4 linked regions of the Homo sapiens genome follow. The protein of the gene in region 1 purifies or fractionates together with the protein of each later gene. This does not show direct contact. Each region holds a gene or a part of one and is shown on either strand. Other genes may lie near its edges.

Evidence for each region. The genes of interacting proteins can lie anywhere in the genome.
Region 2: the proteins of ANXA11 (region 1) and CISD1 fractionate together in Homo sapiens (co-fractionation; one large-scale study listed by BioGRID). This does not show direct contact.
Region 3: the proteins of ANXA11 (region 1) and TPD52L2 fractionate together in Homo sapiens (co-fractionation; one large-scale study listed by BioGRID). This does not show direct contact.
Region 4: the proteins of ANXA11 (region 1) and TPD52 fractionate together in Homo sapiens (co-fractionation; one large-scale study listed by BioGRID). This does not show direct contact.

The regions. Positions count from the first base shown.
Region 1 is NC_000010.11:80,198,261-80,203,492, reverse strand, and holds part of ANXA11 (annexin A11), read left to right. Parts: intron 1-2,099; exon of another isoform or gene 2,100-2,234; intron 2,235-5,232. UniProt on the Homo sapiens protein: Binds specifically to calcyclin in a calcium-dependent manner. Required for midbody formation and completion of the terminal phase of cytokinesis.
Region 2 is NC_000010.11:58,267,676-58,272,794, forward strand, and holds the start of CISD1 (CDGSH iron-sulfur domain-containing protein 1), read left to right. Parts: upstream 1-1,486; 5' UTR 1,487-1,598; coding exon 1,599-1,629; intron 1,630-5,119.
Region 3 is NC_000020.11:63,885,553-63,890,102, forward strand, and holds part of TPD52L2 (tumor protein D54), read left to right. Parts: intron 1-463; coding exon of another isoform or gene 464-490; intron 491-2,011; coding exon of another isoform or gene 2,012-2,053; intron 2,054-3,637; coding exon 3,638-3,686; intron 3,687-4,297; coding exon 4,298-4,393; coding exon of another isoform or gene 4,394-4,490; 3' UTR 4,491-4,550.
Region 4 is NC_000008.11:80,052,232-80,056,781, reverse strand, and holds part of TPD52 (tumor protein D52), read left to right. Parts: intron 1-3,351; coding exon 3,352-3,500; intron 3,501-4,106; exon of another isoform or gene 4,107-4,176; intron 4,177-4,550. Other genes in the region: TPD52-MRPS28 protein, read left to right, coding at 3,352-3,500.

The sequences.
Region 1 (5,232 bases):
TCCCTGTGGTTAAAATATAGGACCTTGAAGGCTGGGTTTGGATAGAGAAACGTGGGGAGGGTGAGATGGAGATGAATTGGGACTAAGAGGTGGGAGTGGAAGCCTCACCTGACGCCTTTATGCATGATACTATAGAAAGGGCCCACCCTGGGTGGATGTGTCTAGAAGGCCAGGATCGATTAGTGATGCCTAGTTCACGTGATTGGGGAGGTGATGTGTGGCTTGGGATGACAGGAGTGGGAGTTGAGACAGAATAGGTTAGTGTGGGTTCTTCTTGGAAATTGTAGAATAGAGAAAAGAAACTGGTGTGGGCAGGAGCTGAATGTGGAACCAAAATGCATGCTGAATGCTGGAACATCAGAGGTCCTGGGACCTTTCTGGTGCACCCCCTCCTTCCTCCTGGATTCACCCCTCTTCTTCTGCTGTCTTTTTTTTTTTTTTTTTTTTTGAGACAGATTTCGCCCTGTCACCCAGGCTGGAGTGCAGTGATGCAATCTTGGCTCACTGCAACCTCCGCTCCCTGGGTTTAAATGATTCTCCTCCCTTGGCCTCCCGAGTAGCTGGGATTACAGGCATGCACCACCATGCCCGGCTAATTTTTGTATTTTTAGTAGAGACGGGGCTTCACCATGTTGGCCAGGCTGGTCTTGAACTCCTGACCTCAGGTGATCTGCCTGCCTCAGTCTCCCAAAGTGCTGGGATTACAGGCATGAGTCACCGTGCCCGGCCTCCTCTCTCTTCTTAGCCACTGTTTTCCCCCGTAAGCCTGAAGCAGTTCCTGGCACTTGTTCCCATGGGGAAGCGTCTGTGTAAGGGTATGCTTCACCAGCACTGCCAAGGAAGTAGACTTTTCACTTTCTCTGGATTTTTCTCTGCAACACCCTCTGATCCCATTGCCCCCAGAATAGTAGGAATTTTGAGTGATACCTAGATAGGAAAGCTCTTAGGATTAATGAAGAAACTGAGATTTTCTTGGTGGGAGTTTGTGCTTTTAAAGGGAGTTGTTGCAATTCAATGGAACTCTGTAATAACCACTGAAACTGTTACACATTAGGCTTACTGACCCTATCTCCTATAACCCATGAAATAAAGACCTGATAGTCACATAGTTGTTTGCTATTTGGGAGGATCCTAAAAGTACAGCCTGAACAGTGACCCAAACCACAGCTGGCCTTGCCCATGCTGATGTGAGGAAGGAATGGGTGGGGGCAACTAAGAAATTGGGGGACAGAGTTCTCTGTGCTAGGTATCCTAGGACAAGCCACCCAGCCACACAGAGACCCCCCGCTTCCCCCCCACAGAACAGTTCTGGATGATAAAATGCCTGCCTGGAATGGAGAATCAGATGAGAAGATGTTTGCAAAGGGGTTTGAGATCAGTTAGCGGGTGGTGATGACAATGTTGATACCGTGGGTGTGTGACTGCCAGGAGCTGTGAAGCAGAGGGTGGAGTGTGCGGTGGTCAAAGCCTGGTTCTGGGATCTCTAGCTTTCCAGGGGCTTAGGCTCCGCCTTAGCAGAAAAGAAGGAAAGGAAATTGAGAAGGAAGTCAGGTGTCCCCTGCCCCTCACACTTGGGGATGGCTGACTTGGAGGACATGAGATGGGGGAAATCTGAGTGAGGGCAGAGAAGAGAAATGTGGAGGCTGCTCACAGGGAGGCTAGGGAGCATATGGCATATCCAGCCTGGGGAGTGGCACCACTGGGGGAAAGGGTGCGTGTGACAGTGGGGAAGGAGTGGTGATAACAGATGTGAGCTTGCTGTGTCCACTAAAAAGGTCACGGCTATTTTTAGGAAGTAGGTGACAAGGCATGTTCCTGTAGAACTGCTTATTACTGAGAACCCACTGTTGGCCTCGCCCTGCGTGGTGTGCTTAAAAGGAGAGACCGCCCCCACTCACCCTAGAGTCATCCACCTGGTGTCCCTGAGACATGGGACACTGGATGAGGACCAGGTTTGGAGGATGAAGAAGATCATGTATTTGGTTTTGGACATGTTGTGTTTGAGGTGTCTTTGAGATACCAAATAAGCTGGTGGGTCTGGGGCTCAGGAGGCGTCTTGGCTAGACAGACATTTGTCTAGGTTGTGTTTGTATTTGAAGTCATGGGCACAGCGAGATTGAAGAACTCACCTCGAACAGCTGAGTAAAGGAAGATGAGCCTATAAAGGACCCAGAAAAAGAGCGACCTGAGAGGGGCCCAGAAAGCCAGGACAGAGTTGTATCCCAGGGGCCAGGGTGAGTCTGCTTCGTGGGATGGAGTGGTCAGCTTGGCATCGCGGCTGTGGTGAGTGATATGGAGGAGATGTGGCTGCCTTCACTGCTTTGGTGGGATGATGTGAGCAGAAGCGAGGTTGGAGTGAATGGGTGAGGAGTAGCAGGACGTGAGGATCTGATGATAGACAGGCTCTGAAATGTTGGCTTTGAAGGCGAAGAGGACGTCGTTGAGGGAGTGTTTGATTCTGTTGCCTCGATTTACCCTCCTGCTCCCTTTCCAATCCCAGAAGGGAACATGTGGATGGCCTGCCACTGACATCCCTCCCCACGGCGCTCCGTGCTCAGGCAGACCTAGGTACCTGCAAGGGTTTGCTTCTTTCACAAAGTGGATTCATTCTCATGAATGAATGAATGAGTGAATGAAGCATGTTGCCCAGGTTGGTCTCAAAGCCCTGGCCTCAAGCAATCCCCCCGCCCCGCCTCAGCCTCCCAAAGTGCTGGGATTACAGGAGTGAACCACTGCACCTGGCTGGTATTAAATTTTCTTTGTGGCCAACTGCATGATAAATATTAACATGTTTCATGGGCGTGAAAGGAGAAAATAGGTCCTCTGCGGGACGCTGACTTTAGATAGATCTCTTAACTTCAGTTACCCTTATATCCCTGCTTGCCTGGCTGTCAGATTCTGAGAGGTATAACAAAAACTCTCACTGTAGTTTTTTAAAGTCCAGCTCTACTTATATTTGTGGGAGTTCTAGCCTTTTGAGTTTGGCTTTCGTGTTTCATGTATATAGGCTTATCAAGCTGATCTTCCTACCTGTCATTTGCTGGTTATTTAATGCCTTTGGTCTTTGGTCTTAAATTCCATATTGTCTGTGTTTTAGGAGAATACATGGCCAAGGATCTGGGAGAATCTCTTTTCTTTACAGTCTTAAAATTAATAAATAAGTGCATTTTATAAGATAATAAGTGAAAGGCTCAGAAATTTAAATGCAGGCATCAGAGGACATTCAAGCCATGCCCCTTTAGCTTCTGTTCAGGCTCACATGGAGCGGTTAGTAATCAGGTCTCACTGATGACCATGAGCTCCCTGTCCTTGGCTGTCCTAATGGTTCCCATGATAGCCAGATTTTTAGGAGGGGTGGATAAAATGAGATTTGCGTGCAAACTCCTGGGACGTTGCCTGGGAACCTCTTCTCTCACTTTGCAATTCCTGCCCCTTCCTGTAGGTCCAAGAAGCGGACTGCTCTGCCTCTCATTTACGCATTTCCTTCCTCATTCCAGACAGCAAGATGAGTTTTTGACAGAGTAGCCAGTACAAACACTTCTCAGGGCCAGAAGTCAGAAAGACGCGGGCCCCAAGTCATAAGCTCATCTCTGTGCTTGTGTTTTAAGCCACATAAACTGTCTCAGCGGGCTGGACTAGGCTATGCCTTGTTGTACCCTGAGATCCTAGTGAGTAGTTCTCCAAGTACTGTGTTTACAGATAAAGGCAAATGCCAGAGAGAAATGGCTGGAAAAACCCCTTGGCTTGCTAAGGCAGGATTATCGAAAAGTCTTCAACATATATGTTTTTAAATTTTACATATTTTTTCATTTTTATTTATTTTGAGACCAGACTAATTTTTGTATTTTTGGTAGAGATGGGGTTTTGCCATGTTGCCCAGGCTGGTCTCAAACTCCTGGGCTCAAGTAATCTGCCCACCTCAGCTTCCCAAAGTGCTGGGATTACGGACATGAGCCACTGCACCCAGCCAACCACTGTGCCCAGCCTATTTTTACTATTAATATTTCCACCTCTGTTTTTCTTTGCATTTATTTGGTATGTCTTTGCCCAACCCTTAGTTTTAAATATTTCTTTCTCACTTAAAAAAGTTTATCTTGGCTGGGCGCGGTAGCTCACGCCTGTAATCCCAGCACTTTAGGAGGCCGAGGCGGGCAGATCACGAGGTCAGGAGATAGAGACCATCCTGGCTAACACGGTGAAATCCCGCCTCTACTAAAAATATAAAAAATTATCCAGGCGTGGTAGCGGGCGCCTATAGTCCCAGCTACTCGGGAGGCTGAGGCAGGAGAATGGCATGAACCCGGGAGGCGGAGCTTGCAGTGGAGCCGAGATCGTGCCACTGCACTCCAGCCTGGACGACAGATCAAGACTTGGTCTCAAAAAAAAAAAAAAAAAAAGTTTATCTTGAAGATGGAATCTTCGTAAATAAAATTTGTTTCTCTTATAATCAGAACGTGGTTGAGGGTGGATGGAGGTTGACAGAAGGCAATGATAACAGCAACAAACCTAATTGCATGGTTTCTGTCTTTGGTAGAGGAATTCTGACTGTTGACATACCAGATATACTTGATTTTATTCTTTGCATCTTGCTTATTACTTATTATACTTGCATGCATTCCTTTCCTGATTTTTGCTGTTGGGTTAAGTTTCTCATCGTCATCTTCCCCACGCCACCTGTATTACGTTTCAGGTTTGGTTGTGAATGAAGAGAGGAGCCCCGTCTCTCTCTCTCTCTCTCTCTCACTCACTCTCTCACTCTTTCTTGAAAAATCAGGGTCGAGGTTAAGTGTGTGTTCCATGAGATTGTCTTGGCACCAGGCTCCTTATGGACTGTTGTCCCTAGCATTCTCAAGGGCTGTGGTTTTCAAACTTGAGCATGTATAAGAACAATCTGGAAGGCTTGTTAAAGCATAGATTCTTGGACTGCACCCTGAATCATTCTAATTTAGGAGGTCTGTGATGGGACCTGAGCACGTTAATTGCTTACAGGCTCCCATATTGTATAATGCCGCCGGGCCACATGTTGGGTAGCACCGTCTAGGTGCCTCCCTTAACTGCATGGCCCAAGACAGCTCACTTTCACATCCCCATGGCAGGCCCTCCTAGCTGCTAGGGGTCTGGAAAGCAGTCCTTAGTGGGGGCTGCTGTGTGCCAGGCTATGGTGTGTTCTGTTACTAAAGCAAGAGAGAACAGATGGTTGAGGAGGACAATCAGAAGTTTCTGGAACACCAC
Region 2 (5,119 bases), about 22 Mb from region 1:
CCGGAGAACCCGAGGGTCGCTCAGGCTCGGGCGCGAGGAGGCCCGGGGGTTCCCGCGGCTGGTGCCCTCTGAAGCGCGGGGAGGGGGCCCATGACGCCGCCGGGGCGCGGGCGCTCCTCTGCCCAACTCTCGGCGGAACGCGGCTCCCGGCTCCTGTTCCTCTGCCGCCGCAGCCGCCGGCCCCGGCGCTGCCCGGTAGACAGAACCGAGCCGAAGAACAGCAGCAGCGGCGCCCCGCGCTCCCTGGGGCCCTGACGGCGACGGCGGNCCCACCTCCTGCGCCCCCGCCCCCTCCCGCCGTCCTCCAGTCCCCTCAGCTGCCGCGCGCGCGTCACCGCCGCCCGCACCGCCGCTGCCGCCGCTACTGAGCATGCCCAGAGGCCGTCCAACGGGATTCCGGCCCCCCAAGTCAGCGGGGCGGGCGCGCCGTGCTGCCAGGACCTGGCGACGGCGACAGGGATAGGGCGAGCGCACCCCTGTTTCTTCTCACCCCCACCCCGCGGGCATTTCGAAGTCACGCGTGCTGCTGTGGCCTCATTCATTCAACACGCTTCTCAGCGCGTCAGCTCAGAGAAGCCAGGGACTTCTAAGTGTGCGGAGCAGTCCGGCAAGAATTGGAAGGCACTAGCATTGCCAAGGGTGGCTCTAAAGGCCACCCCTAACTGCACTCAACTCCCTCCAACTCCCACCCCGCACGAAAACAACAGAAGTAAAAGCAGGCAGCTTATTAGAGATGCGCCTTCAAAATACCCTTCGAGTTAATCTCAGCCCCCCTCCCCGGATTGCTGTCTCTAAACCGCTCTTACCAAAAAGTAAAACACATAAAAATAAAATAAAATTGGAACCGACACGAATTTCAGACTGTAGAAGACAGAGAAAACTTCTAATTTTTTTAAGTGAACATGTTTTTTAAAGAAAGGAGCAAGTTTTTTCTCTCCCACTCGACCTTTAAGATAGTGCAGGTTCCAAGGTCCTGAGTAGATAATTATATCAAAAGCAGAAAGGGATGGACACCGGTAGCTACGCGAGGTTCTGGAATGGGACTCAGTCATTGATTCCTGTATGTCCGCCGCTGGCATGTTATATAAAAGCTGGACCTGGCCTTGAAGGTAAATCGTCACAAGCCCCGAGCAAGAAAAACTGGGGTCAAATCTTAGGTATCTGATTAAAGTAAGTGTCCTATTAACACCTGTTTCTGCCCCCAGAAGCCCACACACCTGGAAGAGACGTAAAATCTGGCCTGGATTCCCTAATCCCAGGGCCCTGCCCCTCGGCTTCAGGGCCCCGCCCCTCGGCTTCAGGGCCCCGCCCCTCGGCGTTGCGCAAACTCTGTTGCTACCTAAGTCTTTTCCTCCTCCCACCTCCCGTAGCTGTCAAAATCCGGAGTCCAGACTTCCTTATGGCCAGGACAGCTCCACGCATGCTCAGCACCTACCAGGGTCGAGCTCACACACGTGCCTACGACCCGCCGCGGCGCCTGCGCGGTAGCATCGCGGAGTCGGTGCTTTAGTACGCCGCTGGCACCTTTACTCTCGCCGGCCGCGCGAACCCGTTTGAGCTCGGTATCCTAGTGCACACGCCTTGCAAGCGACGGCGCCATGAGTCTGACTTCCAGTTCCAGCGTACGAGGTGAAGTGGGGCCTGGGAGCGGGTGAGGCTGGTGAGGCTCAGCGGTTGCCGCGCCCGCAGTTCGACTGGGTTGTTTTACCACTGCCCTACGCGCCCGCCGGTCCTATAACCTTGAGATGCAGAAGGGCAAGCGCTCGGCCCGGCTGCGGGCTCCGGGCCGGACAGCGAAAGGGGGCGAGGTCAGGGATGGATTGATGGTTTGGGGCCATGCCGGACCAGAGTCCACGTTTACCCCAGCTAGCCAAACCCTAACACCTAATGACCGCGCCGCTAGCTTTTCTTGTTCACCCCTAAGACGCTTTCATGTCCTTAAGTCACATAGCCTGGAAAAGAAGGAAAGGTGGGAGAAAACAACAGCAAACCTGTTTGCCCTTCTCATGTTTCAGTCAGCGTCGGGCCACAACGTCGATTTCCTGCAATCCTGAAGCATTGCGTGACTAATCACATCTTAGTTTTGCAGATTTTTTTTTAAGGGATGAAACGCAATCCGAGGTTTTCAGTTTTCCCGGTTTTTTATTATTCCTCTGGCATCTGACACTCGGTGGCAGTAGTCCAGGATAAAGGATTGAAAACTGCGTTCGTTGAACCTTCAGCTTTCTGAGTCTTCTTTCCCCTGTGCTAGTACCTAGCGTTTGGAAACAGTATTTCGCAGAAAGTCCCGTTATAATAAAATTAAGAGACTTTATAAGCAGTCATTTAATGTGGAGTTTCACTTTATAACCATTCTTGGTGATGTTATAATTGTTAATATAATACTGTGTACCAGACACACAATATATGTGATCTTTGCCCCTCTATAAAACGCCACTTCGCAAGGTTTTGAGTAAAGGCAAAGAGACTGTCTAGAGGTTAATTAAAAATACGTTCAGTAAATATTGAACATCTGTAGTGCCAGGTAATAAAAAGTCCCTACTAACTTGAGCCCTAATTTTTTAATAGGTAGTTTCCAAAAATTGGAGAGTTCCACTTCTGTTGACAAAATTTACCTGGCTAAGGGTGATATTCCATGACATTTCGAAGTTACTAATGATATAGAGATTATTATTTGCAAAAATTATATTAAAGGATACTCATCTTGAGACTTTTTTTAATAGAGGCAGCTTGGTGCATTTAAAATAGGGTGTGATTTTTGTTTTTGTTTTTTAAAAAACTATATTCTCTTGGGATTAAGACTTGTGAAATGAGATGTTCATGTGACTTGTGCCGCTGATATTTTTAATTTTACAGGAAGACTGCACATGTTTGAGGTGGACCAAAAGATTCCACAGTGTGTGTTTAAAATACGGGATCATTTTGTGTACATGAACACTAAACTCTATTTAGGTTGCATATTATTGAAATGTGAAACGGGTGAACCCCTTAGGACTTACCGCTATCTGCAGGCTGGTCTGCAGGATTTCTTTTTTAGACAAGACAAGGTTTTTTGTTTTGTTTTGTTTTTCAAGTCTAACCATAGGGGAATTCAAAGGCAACTTTCCCAATCATTTTCCATTGCCTAAGGAATAGGAAATCACTGAAGCAGGTTATTGGCTTCAACTGGAAGTATTCAACTTTGTTAGGAGGAGTGATTATTTTTTGAGACAGAGTCTCACTCAGTGGCCCAAGCTGGAGTGCAGTGTTGTGATCATAGCTCACTGCAACCTTGAACTTCTGGGCCCAAGCCATCCTTTCTCCTTGGTCCCCTGGCTTCCCAAAGTGCTGAGATTACATATGTGAGACACCACACGTTGCCATGACTATTTTTTTTTTTTTTGAGGCGGAGTCTCGCTCTGTCGCCCAGGCTGGAGTGCAGTGGCGGGATCTCGGCTCACTGCAAGCTCCGCCTCCCGGGTTCATGCCATTCTCCTGCCTCAGCCTCCCAAGTAGCTGGGACTACAGGCGCCCGCCACTACGCCCGGCTAATTTTTTGTATTTTTAGTAGAGACGGGGTTTCACCGTTTTAGCCGGGATGGCTCTCGATCTCCTGACCTCGTGATTCGCCCGCCTCGGCCTCCCAAAGTGCTGGGATTACAGGCGTGAGCCACCGCGCCCGGCCGACTATTTTTTATTTCACCAAAAAGCATGCAAGTTGTCATGAGGACTGTAGGGAGAGGCCCAAAGCCTTTGTAAATCTCTTCTACCAACATTTTCCTCCTCAATATAGTAGTAGGTAGGCAAGGTAGGGAAAGAGAATGTCGAGGGGATTTAACTTTTAATGTTTAGATCACACACAAGTTTGGTTCTCTTCTCAAACTTTAAACCAAGTTTATTCCTACAGATTGAAAATCAATTTAGATCTTTTAATTGGGGGAAAGATATCATGTCTCTTCTCAATTAAATGAATTTGTAATTATAAAGGGTTTAGAATGATATGTGACAGTGGTAAGCACTATATAAATATATGTTAAATATAAAGTGTGTACGTGTATGCAGAACTCTTGTTCATCATCAGAAGAAAAATAAAAGGTAGTTTATAAAAAAAAATTTAACGGGAATCAGGCCAGGACTGGAATCAGGCAGAGGCAGTGAGAATGAATGATTGGAACTGAAATACTCTTAAGATCCTGATCATTGAGATAGCTCTTGATACCAGTATGGTCGATAAGACCATTAGTTTATTATATTTTCTAGTACTAAGTGGCCTTCACTGCCTACTCGTCCAGTCTCTTATGATTCCTCCTCATATCCAAATAGATGACCTTTCTGAACATCATCCTGCTCCTTGATAACTCTAGCACTCATTGATCACTCTCACCCTTAACCCTTTCTCTTCTATTTGCAAGGAAGATGTTAACTCTTAGGCTGTTCTCTCTCCATGTCCTCCAGATGCCGTTTTCTTTTGCTTAAATCTTTGCCTCAGTGATATCTGTTGTTCGTAAATATTTAGTGCCTCATAAAGATTTTCTTCAGCCTTAAGTCACTCATAATTCACCCTCATCTTTAAAAAAAAAAAAAAGCCAACTATACCAGGTAATTTTGAAAGGCATCCCTTAACCTGCCTTCCCCTGAAATCACTTTTTTTTTTTTACTTTACCCTCAAGTTGCAACATAGGGATTTGTCTGTTCATCTTGTACTTCATTATCTATCCCAAACCCTGATCACTACAACGCTTGTAACCAAAATTACATTTCATAAATTCTTATTCTCTTTCATATTCTTGTGTATTTTATTGAAACTAATTTTCTAATTCATTTAACCACAACATAGGAAAATATTGTTTTGGTTCACTAAATTCACCAAGTCATTTAAAGTCATTATTTAAGGGTTTTTGTCTGAAAAGAAAGGTATGGATCATACTGAAAATAAAAGGGATAGCTCCTATAAGTTATAAACAATAAATGAAAAATAAGAGGGCTGGGTGCGGTGGCTCACGCCTGTAATCTCAGCACTTTGGGAGGCCAAGGCGGGCAGATCATGAGGTCAGGAGTTCGAGACCAGCTTGGACAACATGGTGAAACCCCCGTCTCTACTAAAAATACAAAAAATTAGCCAGGCATGGTGGCACGCATC
Region 3 (4,550 bases), on another chromosome or scaffold:
CCTCAGCTGACGTGATTTGGGGAACACGGGCCGCTCTCGTTCTGTGGAGCTGGCCAAGCCCAGCTGTCATGCTGTGGCACATTTCACACCTTTGCGCTGCTGGATGGGGCTGGTTGTGCTCCAGGTGCTGTGGCTTCTCCAAACAGGTGTGCCTTGGGGCATAAGGCGTGGACAGGGCGTGGACCCAGGGGCCTCTTGGGCACAGCCGTGAGGCTGAGCAGTTGCTAGTCATGATCTTGCGAGAGCCTCCTGTTGAGTCAGGACTTGAGGAGACTGGAGACAGTGCTGCTGTCCCCGGTGGTGTGCGGACTGGAGGAGCCGTCCTGGAGGGTCTTCCCCTGCTGGGCCTGACTGAGCACGAGCAGGGGGCCTCCCCTGGGGCTCCCCGAGGAGGGCTGTGAGTGGGTGCTGGCCTCCCTTGCTTACACTTCGTTTCCTCTTCTCTCCTGCTGCCACCTTCCAGGGCTCATCCATTTTCACACTCCTTTAGGTAAGGCTGAGCCTGGACACACCTGTGGAAGACTTTTCTCTGAATTGGGGCAGGGTGGACTCCGGCAGGGCCCTTGGGCGGCTGTGCTAGTAGAGGGCAGTGAAAGTGGGATCACCCCTTCCAGGACAGCAGTGCCAGCCAGGTGGTTGCTGCATCTCAGGGAACAAAGCAGCAGCGTGGGATCGACGCAGAGGCCCCCCGGAACCCCCCGGCCCTTCTGTGTCCCCTCCTCGTGCTTCCCTTCAGGCTCACAGACCGCCTGCTGCCGGGTCTGTGAATAACTGGCCTGGCGTCCAGGCCTGAGTTTACTCCTGAAAAGGAGCTTTTTTTTTTTTTTAGACGGAGTCTTGCTCTGTCGCCCAGGTTGGAGTGCCGTGGCGCGATCTCGGCTCACTGCAAGCTCCGCCTCCCGGGTTCACGCCATTCTCCTGCCTCAGCCTCTCCGAGTAGCTGGGACTACAGGCGCCCGCCGCCACGCCCGGCTAATTTTTTGTATTTTTAGTAGAGACGGGGTTTCACCGTGGTCTCGATCTCCCGACCTCGTGATCCGCCCGCCTCGGCCTCCCAAAGTGCTGGGATTACAAGCGTGAGCCACCGCGCCCGGCCTTTTTTTTCTTTTTTTTGTTGGAGTCTCGCTCTATCACCAGGCTGGAGCACAGTGGTGTGATCTCGGCTCACTGCAACCTCCAGCTCCCTGGTTCAAGCGGTTCTCCTGCCTCAGGCTCCTGAGTAGCTGGGATTACAGGCATGAGCCACCACGCCTGGCTAATTTTTGTATTTTTAGTAGAGACGGGGTTTCACCATGTTGGCCAGCATGGTCTCGATCTCCTGACCTCGTGATCCACCCGCCTTGGCCTCCCAAAGTGCTGGGATTACAGGCGTGAGCCACTGCGCCGGGCCCTCAAAGGAGCCTTTTCACGTGGGAGGGCTGTGCCGACTCTCACCACCTTCCTGTTCAACATCTGTCCTGTTTCCTTGTTTTCCTTCAGATGGAGTTTTGTCTTGTTTACTACCCGAGAGCCCATAGGTGTGCCTCCCAAAGGGCCCTCCTGCAGACCAGAGCAAGCTCCTCTAGGCCAAGCCGGGGCGCCGCCAGCACGTGCCCTTCTGCTGGAACCGGGAGGTCTAGAGCCAGGCCCAGAACAATCTGTGATTTCTTGTGTTTTTACTTGACTTGGTGGTTTCTCTTTTGCCAAAAGGTCCTTACTTGACTTCTGAAGGCTGTTTGTACCAAATACTTTTCAAAAGCCCAAGCCTGGTCTCCTCACAGCTTCCTATGGCAGTGCTCTCCCCCCTCCCAGTGCTATGCGCTGGGCAACTTGGGGTGCCCCCCATGAGGCCAAGGGAGGACCCTGGGGTCGAGTTTCCTTCGGGGGCATTGTGTGGAGGGGCAGGCAGCTCGCTCCAACTGCTGGGAGTGGGGGAATCCCAGCTCTGCCCATCCCTGCCAAGTTGGGGTTGTGTGTGGATCTTGGTGTTAACTCTTGCTTCCTTCTCTGCTTCTGCCATGCTTCCAAGCAGCAGCTACTCCATCCGCCACTCAATAAGTATGCCAGCCATGAGGTAATGTATGCCTGCTCGCTGCGGCTCCAGAGCCGGGTGTCTCTGGTGGGGGTTGGGGCAGCTCCCGCCGGTTACACCTTGCCCTTCCCATATTCCTGGATTAATTGAGGACTCCATTCCCTTGGCAACCTCTGATGACTAAGGGCCGGTAAAAACCCCCTCTAGGCTGACGAGGAAGAGCTGGTAGGGGGTCAGGCTCTTCACCTGCAGCCTCCAGAGGAGATCCTTGTGTCAAACTGGGCCGTGTCCTTTCCAAGTCCTGACCCTGGCTGCCTGCAGTGGGTGGGGTGGGGTTCGAGGGGCTCGCACACAGATCCTGGCACTTGCCCTGGTGGGCTGTCACTCAGGACACTTCACGGTCTCAGCCTTCACGGAAACACCCAGAGCTGTGGTCCTTATTCTGTGCCTGTCAGGCACCACCCTGATTCTCAGGATTCTGTGCCTGTGCCGTGAGGCACTGCCCTGATTCTCAGGAGAGCCCAGAACTGTGGTCCCTATTCTGTGCCTGCGCCGTCAGGCACCGCCCTGATTCTCAGGAGAGCCCTGTTCTCCTTGTGGGGACTCTGGCTGGGTGTCGCAGACGTGCTGGCCTCTAGAGTCCCCGGGCCTGGGAGGGGTATCTGTTTGTGTGGGAGGGACTGAGTGGGATGGAGCTGGCCTGCTTTCTCCTCTTGTCTCCTTATCACTCTGCTGTCCCAGAAGTGTCCTTGGTCTTCCGTTTGCTTCTCTGAGAGATGTGCATGAAGAACTGCACAGACTTTTCATAACTTCAGTACGAGAGCCCAGGGTGTCCCTGTAGGGGACAGCAGAGAGGGGCCGACAGCCCCCCAACTGCGCAGACTTTTCATAACCTCAGTACGAGAGCCCAGGGTGTCCCTGTAGGGGATAGCAGAGAGGGGCCGACAGCCCCCCAACTGCACAGACTTTTCATAACCTCAATACGAGAGCCCGGGGTATCCCTGTAGGGGACAGCAGAGAGGGGCCGACAGCCCCCCAACTGCGCAGACTTTTCATAACCTCAGTACGAGAGCCCAGGGTGTCCCTGTAGGGGATAGCAGAGAGGGGCCGACAGCCCCCCAACTGCACAGACTTTTCATAACCTCAGTACGAGAGCCCGGGGTATCCCTGTAGGGGACAGCAGAGAGGGGCCGACAGCCCCCCAACTGCGCAGACTTTTCATAACCTCAGTACGAGAGCCCGGGGTGTCCCTGTAGGGGACAGCAGAGAGGGGCCGACAGCCCCCCAACTGCACAGACTTTTCATAACCTCAGTACGAGAGCCCGGGATGTCCCTGTAGGGTATGACAGAGAGGGGCCGACATCTCCCCAGCTGCACAGTCAAGGGGTTTCCAGTTGCCTTGTGTGACGTCTGGACCTGTCCCTGTGGTTGTTGGGCATGGCCGACCTCACTTTTGACCTGGGGAGTCTCCGGAATGACCTGGCTGTCTCACAGTTTTGCCATGAGATCTTGGGATGTTGTTAGGGACCCTTTGGAGGCTGGCCCTAACCCTGAGGCCCTTCCGAGTTAGGAGAGCAGCACAACCCTCTCCTCTTGACACCGACACTCTTCCCTCTCTCTTTAAAGGAACTCTGCGACCTTCAAGTCGTTTGAGGACCGAGTTGGGACCATAAAGGTAATTGTACCTGGACTGTTTGATGGTCTTGGCAAGGTGTGACCTGTTACAGCAACTTGTTTATTATTAGTCATTTAGTTATGGTAGACTCACATACAGTTGTGGGAAGTAATGCAGAGAGGTTCCTTGTGCCTTTTACACAGTTCTCTCCTGTGACGACATCTTGGAAAATCCTGTAGTGCAGCCTCCCCACCAGGACATTGGCACTGACTCAGGACACAGAACGCCTCCACACTGCCCTTCCTGGTCCCCACTGCCCTTCCTGGTCCCCACTGCCCTTCCTGGTACCTTCTTGGCCATGCTGACCTTCCTCCCGCCCTACCCCCGGCAACCCCTAGTCCACTCTCCCTTTGTATAATTGTGTCATTTCAAGAATGTCACGTAAATGGAACGATACAGTGTGCAGCTTTTTGGCATTCACTGTCTTCATTTGGCATCGTTCTCTGGAGACCTGTTGGGGCTGGTGCCCGTCCGTGATTTGCTCCCTGTCCCTGCTGAGCAGTGTTCGTGTTACATAAGCTTTTGTAGAGCATTGAGCATGGGCCTGGGATCTGCCTTGTGTTGTGTGCTCTGTCTCAGGTTTTTCTGTCTTCATCTTTTCTCTCCTGTAGTCTAAGGTTGTGGGTGACAGAGAGAACGGCAGTGACAACCTCCCTTCCTCAGCGGGGAGTGGTGACAAGCCCCTGTCGGATCCCGCACCTTTCTAAGCCTGTGGTTGCTTCACCCGCTGCAGAGCACACGCAACCCAGCCTCAGCATCACAGCCGCAGCTCTGTTCAGCGGAGCAGCCAGCCAGGGCGGATGAGCAGAGCCGGCCCTGAGGACAGTCCTGCCCATCCACGCGGAGATGTGGCTGCCGCGTTTG
Region 4 (4,550 bases), on another chromosome or scaffold:
CTGCCCAACTTCATTTTACATTCTCACCAGCTGTGTCTGAGGGTTCCAATTTCTCCACATCCTTGCCAACACTTATTAATCTCTGTTTTTTTTAATTGTAACCATCCTAATGGGTATGAAGTGGTATCTCCTTGTGGTTTTGATTTGCATTTCTCAAATTACTAATGAATGGTGTTAAGCATCTTTTCATGTGCTTATTGGTCATTTGTATATCTTGGGAGAAATGTCTATTTAAGTCCTTTGCCCATTTTCTAATTGGATTGTCTTTTTATTGAGTTGTAAGTTTCTTTATATGTTCTAGATACTAGACTCTTATTAGGTATGTAATTTGCCAATATTTTCCCCATTCTGTTGGTTGTCTTTTACTTTCATGACAGTGTCGTTTGAAGCACAACCTGTAGGCATCCTCCCTTTCCCAACCTCTAACACCCACAATTTTACTCTCTACTTAGATGGGTTCAGAGTTTTTTCTTGGCGTCCACATGTGAGTAAGAACATGCAGTATTTATCTTTCTGTGCCTGATTTATTCTGCTTAACGTATTGTTCTCTAGGCTCATCCATGTTGCTGCAAATTACAGGATTTCATTCTTTTTTATGGCAGAATTGTATTCCATTGTGTATACCACATTTTCTTTATCCATTCACCTGTTGATGGACACTTGGGTATTGTAAATAGTGCTGCAATAAACGTGGGGGTGTAGGTACCCTTTGATACACTGATTTCCTTTCCTTTGGATAAGTAACCCAGTAGTGGGATTGCTGGATTATGTGGTATTTCTATTTTAAGTTTTTCTGAGAAACCTCCATACTGTTTTTCATAGTGGCTGTACTAATTTATATTCCCAGCAACAGTGTATAAGAGTTTCATCTTCTCTGGATCCTTGCCAGCATCTGTTATTTTTTGGTTTTTTGATAACAGGCATAATAACAGGTGTGAGGTGATACCTCATTTTGATTTTGATTTGCATTTCCCTGATGATTAGTGATGTTGAGCATTTTTAATATATTTGTTGGCCATTTATATGTCTCTTCTGAGAAATGTCTATTTAGATCCTTTGCCCACTTTTTAAATGGGATTGCTTGTTTGTTTTGTTGTTGAATTGAGTTCCTTGTATATTTTGGATATTAGTCCCTTGTCAGATGAATAGTTTGCAAATGTTCTCTCCCATTCTACAGGTTATCTCTTCACTCTGTTGATGATTTCCTTGAATTTAGTCCCATTTGTCTATTTTTGTTTTTGTTGCCTGTGTTTCTGAGGTCTTAGCCATAAAATCTTTGTCTAGACCAATGCCCTGAAGTGTTTCTCCTATGTTTTCTTCTAGTAGTTTTATGGTTTTGGGTCCTTAGTCCATTTTGAGTTGATCTTTGTATATAGTGATAGACACATCAGAGATTCTTAATCATGCTCTTTATGCTTTTAAAGTCACTCTGTTTTACATGTATATATTGAATTAAGGAATCGCAGCCATGATGTGCTGGGCTAGGTGTGTTAGCAGCACAAGCTAACCAACAAAGGTGGGGAATATACTGTGTTGTGCATTGTTCAGAAAGATTTAGAGTGGTTTGTCTTTGCAGCTTTCATTAGAGGAAGTGAGTACCTCAGAGAAGTGCTAAGGGGTGGGAAACTTACCATTTAAGTCTATTCTTAGAAGTGTCTGAAGCTTTGGAGCCTGAAGTAGAGACAGAGGAAGTGGGAAGCTTAAGAGAGTGTACATGAGAATTCAGCCAGTAAACTGAGACGTGCATTCAGAAAACCTAGATAGGAATTCTGGTTCCTACATTATTTGTTTGATGACTTTGGGCAAATCATTTAATTTACTTAATTTTGAACCTTATTCTTTCCTCTTTTTTTGTCCTTTTCTTCTCGTATTCCACTTCGTCAATGTACATCTTAAAATGTGACTTACAAAACTGGGTCCAGTACTTGTGACTCTGACAAGCACAGGGGATTATTTATTTGTTCTGAGGGACCTCTGTTCCAGTTAATCTTATCTGAGAGTGGTGTTGTAGGTTCTTTTTCTTCTTTTTTTTTTTTTCTTGGCAGCTGCATCACATTTGATTTATCCTTTTCTCCGTTGCACTAATTTTCTTTGTTTTGTGTTCTCTAAAGACTTAAACATCTGTGAAAACATTTGACTGAGCAATACTCTATGTTATTTTTAAAGGGCATGTTGTCTTTGAAATCATAGAAATACCGTGCAGGTTGGGGCTGAAAATATGGCTTTGCAACAAGCCAGGAGACGCATTTCTCTGAGGGTCTTGAATGTTAATGGATATACTTTAGGGACCTAGATTTTCAATTTCCTGGGACCTAAAGTCTCTTCCACATGGTGTCTATTTCTCTCTGAAATAGGCAGTCCACCCTTTTCCCTGTTTCTGAAATAGAGAGTCTACCATTTTCCCTGTTTTCCTGGATTAGCCTTTTGTTCTACTCTGTCCATTTTTTCCTTTTCTTCATAGCTTCTGCTTACAGTTTTAGATTCCTCAAGCATATTTAAGCTTTCCATACCTCTCATAATCTCACTGTAGCCTACCTATACCTCAAGGCTTCTTCAAGTTTTTTCAGCTTCTACTTGCAATGTCATCTCACTTCTCAAACTAGATTCCTGAGTGAGAGAGACGAATAGTTGAGCACCTCTTTTCACACTGGGCTCATCCACTGGCTCTTGATGGGTGGCTGTCCATGGGTCAGGGCCCACCTCTAACCACCTAGTCAAGTCTGGGCAGTCAGCATCAAGGGGTTCACATGAAACCCTTGAGAGCAGGGATCTCCTGAGGAGGCGGTTTGATTTATTATGGCCATGACTTTGCCAGACACAGGGACTGAGTATATGTATCCAGTATATATACTCATATCAAATATGCAAGGAGATTGGATTTGGGTTTGGCTTGGTTGTGTGTGTTTTGGTAGGGGATGGAGATTATTTTGATTTAGTATACAAATACAAGTTTTGTAGGCATTCAGATAGAAATGTCTAGGCTGGGAAGGCAGACCCACAGGTCGGGAGAGTGGATGTTAGAGTGCTTTATTAAGTATTATCTGTGTAGAAATTTGAGTCCTAAACCTACATGAGATAGCTGAGTAAGGAAGTATAGGGAGAGAGGAGAAGGCCAAAAACAGCTTAAGATGGGATTATAAAGAGCTCCCATGGAGGAGGAAAGAGAACTCTACAGGAGAGATCAGCAAGTAACCAGTTTACTCAACAACATTATACATTGTTTTTAGAGAGAAAGATAAATGATTCAAAAAAATGTTTAATGACTGGAATTTTGGATGTAGTTCTGTGGTAATAATCTTAACTTACTGAATGACTTTTGCTATATTCTTACCCCAAACCCCTTCCTCATAGGTAGAAGAAGAAATCCAGACTCTGTCTCAAGTGTTAGCAGCAAAAGAGAAGCATCTAGCAGAGATCAAGCGGAAACTTGGAATCAATTCTCTACAGGAACTAAAACAGAACATTGCCAAAGGGTGGCAAGACGTGACAGCAACATCTGCGTATGTTTCCTTGATCATACACTTTCCTTGGGAGTGTAAAGGACACTGTTGTGCCTTTTGTCTGGAGAGGGGAAGAAAAAGAGGATAAGGATGCTTCAGCAGCTTTTCTTTGGACGACACGGCACCCTTTTTTTCTGATTTTCAAGTGTGCCTGCCTTTTTTTGTAACTTCAATTTTTCCAGACCACTTATTCTAAGGAATAGAAAGAAAGCTAGCCAGTTGGAGAAATAAAATTCAAATCCCATAAGTGTTATGTATTGACTTGCCACAAATATGTACATTTTGTCCTTTAGTACTCAGAATAACCCAGTAAGAATGGGTGGCAAGATAACCCTGGATAAGGAAACAGGCTCAGACAAATTAAGTTTTCATGTCACAAACCTCTCAAAATGTGGAGTGGGAATTCAAACTCAGGTCTGGAGCCAGTCTTTATTATTATTATTAATGTATTTTTTTAACCTTGTTGTGTAGGTATCAAAAGATTCTCAGGTCGTAGTCTCAGATATATGCTCTTGGCAGAGGTCAATCCCTTAGGCTTTTTGTCTTTTTGACCACACATGCTATGATATAGCATTATCATAATGCAGTTTTGTTTCCCGGCACAAGGAGGAGCAAGCTTCTAGCAGCAGAAACCGAACTGCTCTGTCTTCTGTATTGAGAGCCATCTGCAGAGCTGGTGAGCACAGAAGTTGTTTTACAATTTAACTATCAGAAGTGAGGCCAACTGCATTTAACATGACAGTACTTGAGTCCCCAGTCTTTTGGTCCATTTTCTACCCATCTAAGTTGGCAGTGGGAAAACATACAGGAAACTATTTTTTCAACAGTATTACCATGAACCATGTTTTTTTATTGGTATTTGATCTTGACAGGGTAAGTAAAAATGCCTGAGCATTCTTTCCCATAATGTGGGAATTGTTTTGGTAGGTACGATATTATTTTGTTTTTTGTTGTTGTTGTTGTCATCATTTTTTTGTTTTTGCTTTTCTCTTCTCTAATCTCCAGGTAGCTGGGAAGGAGGTGGTAAATTATAGCTTTGCGTGATAGCAG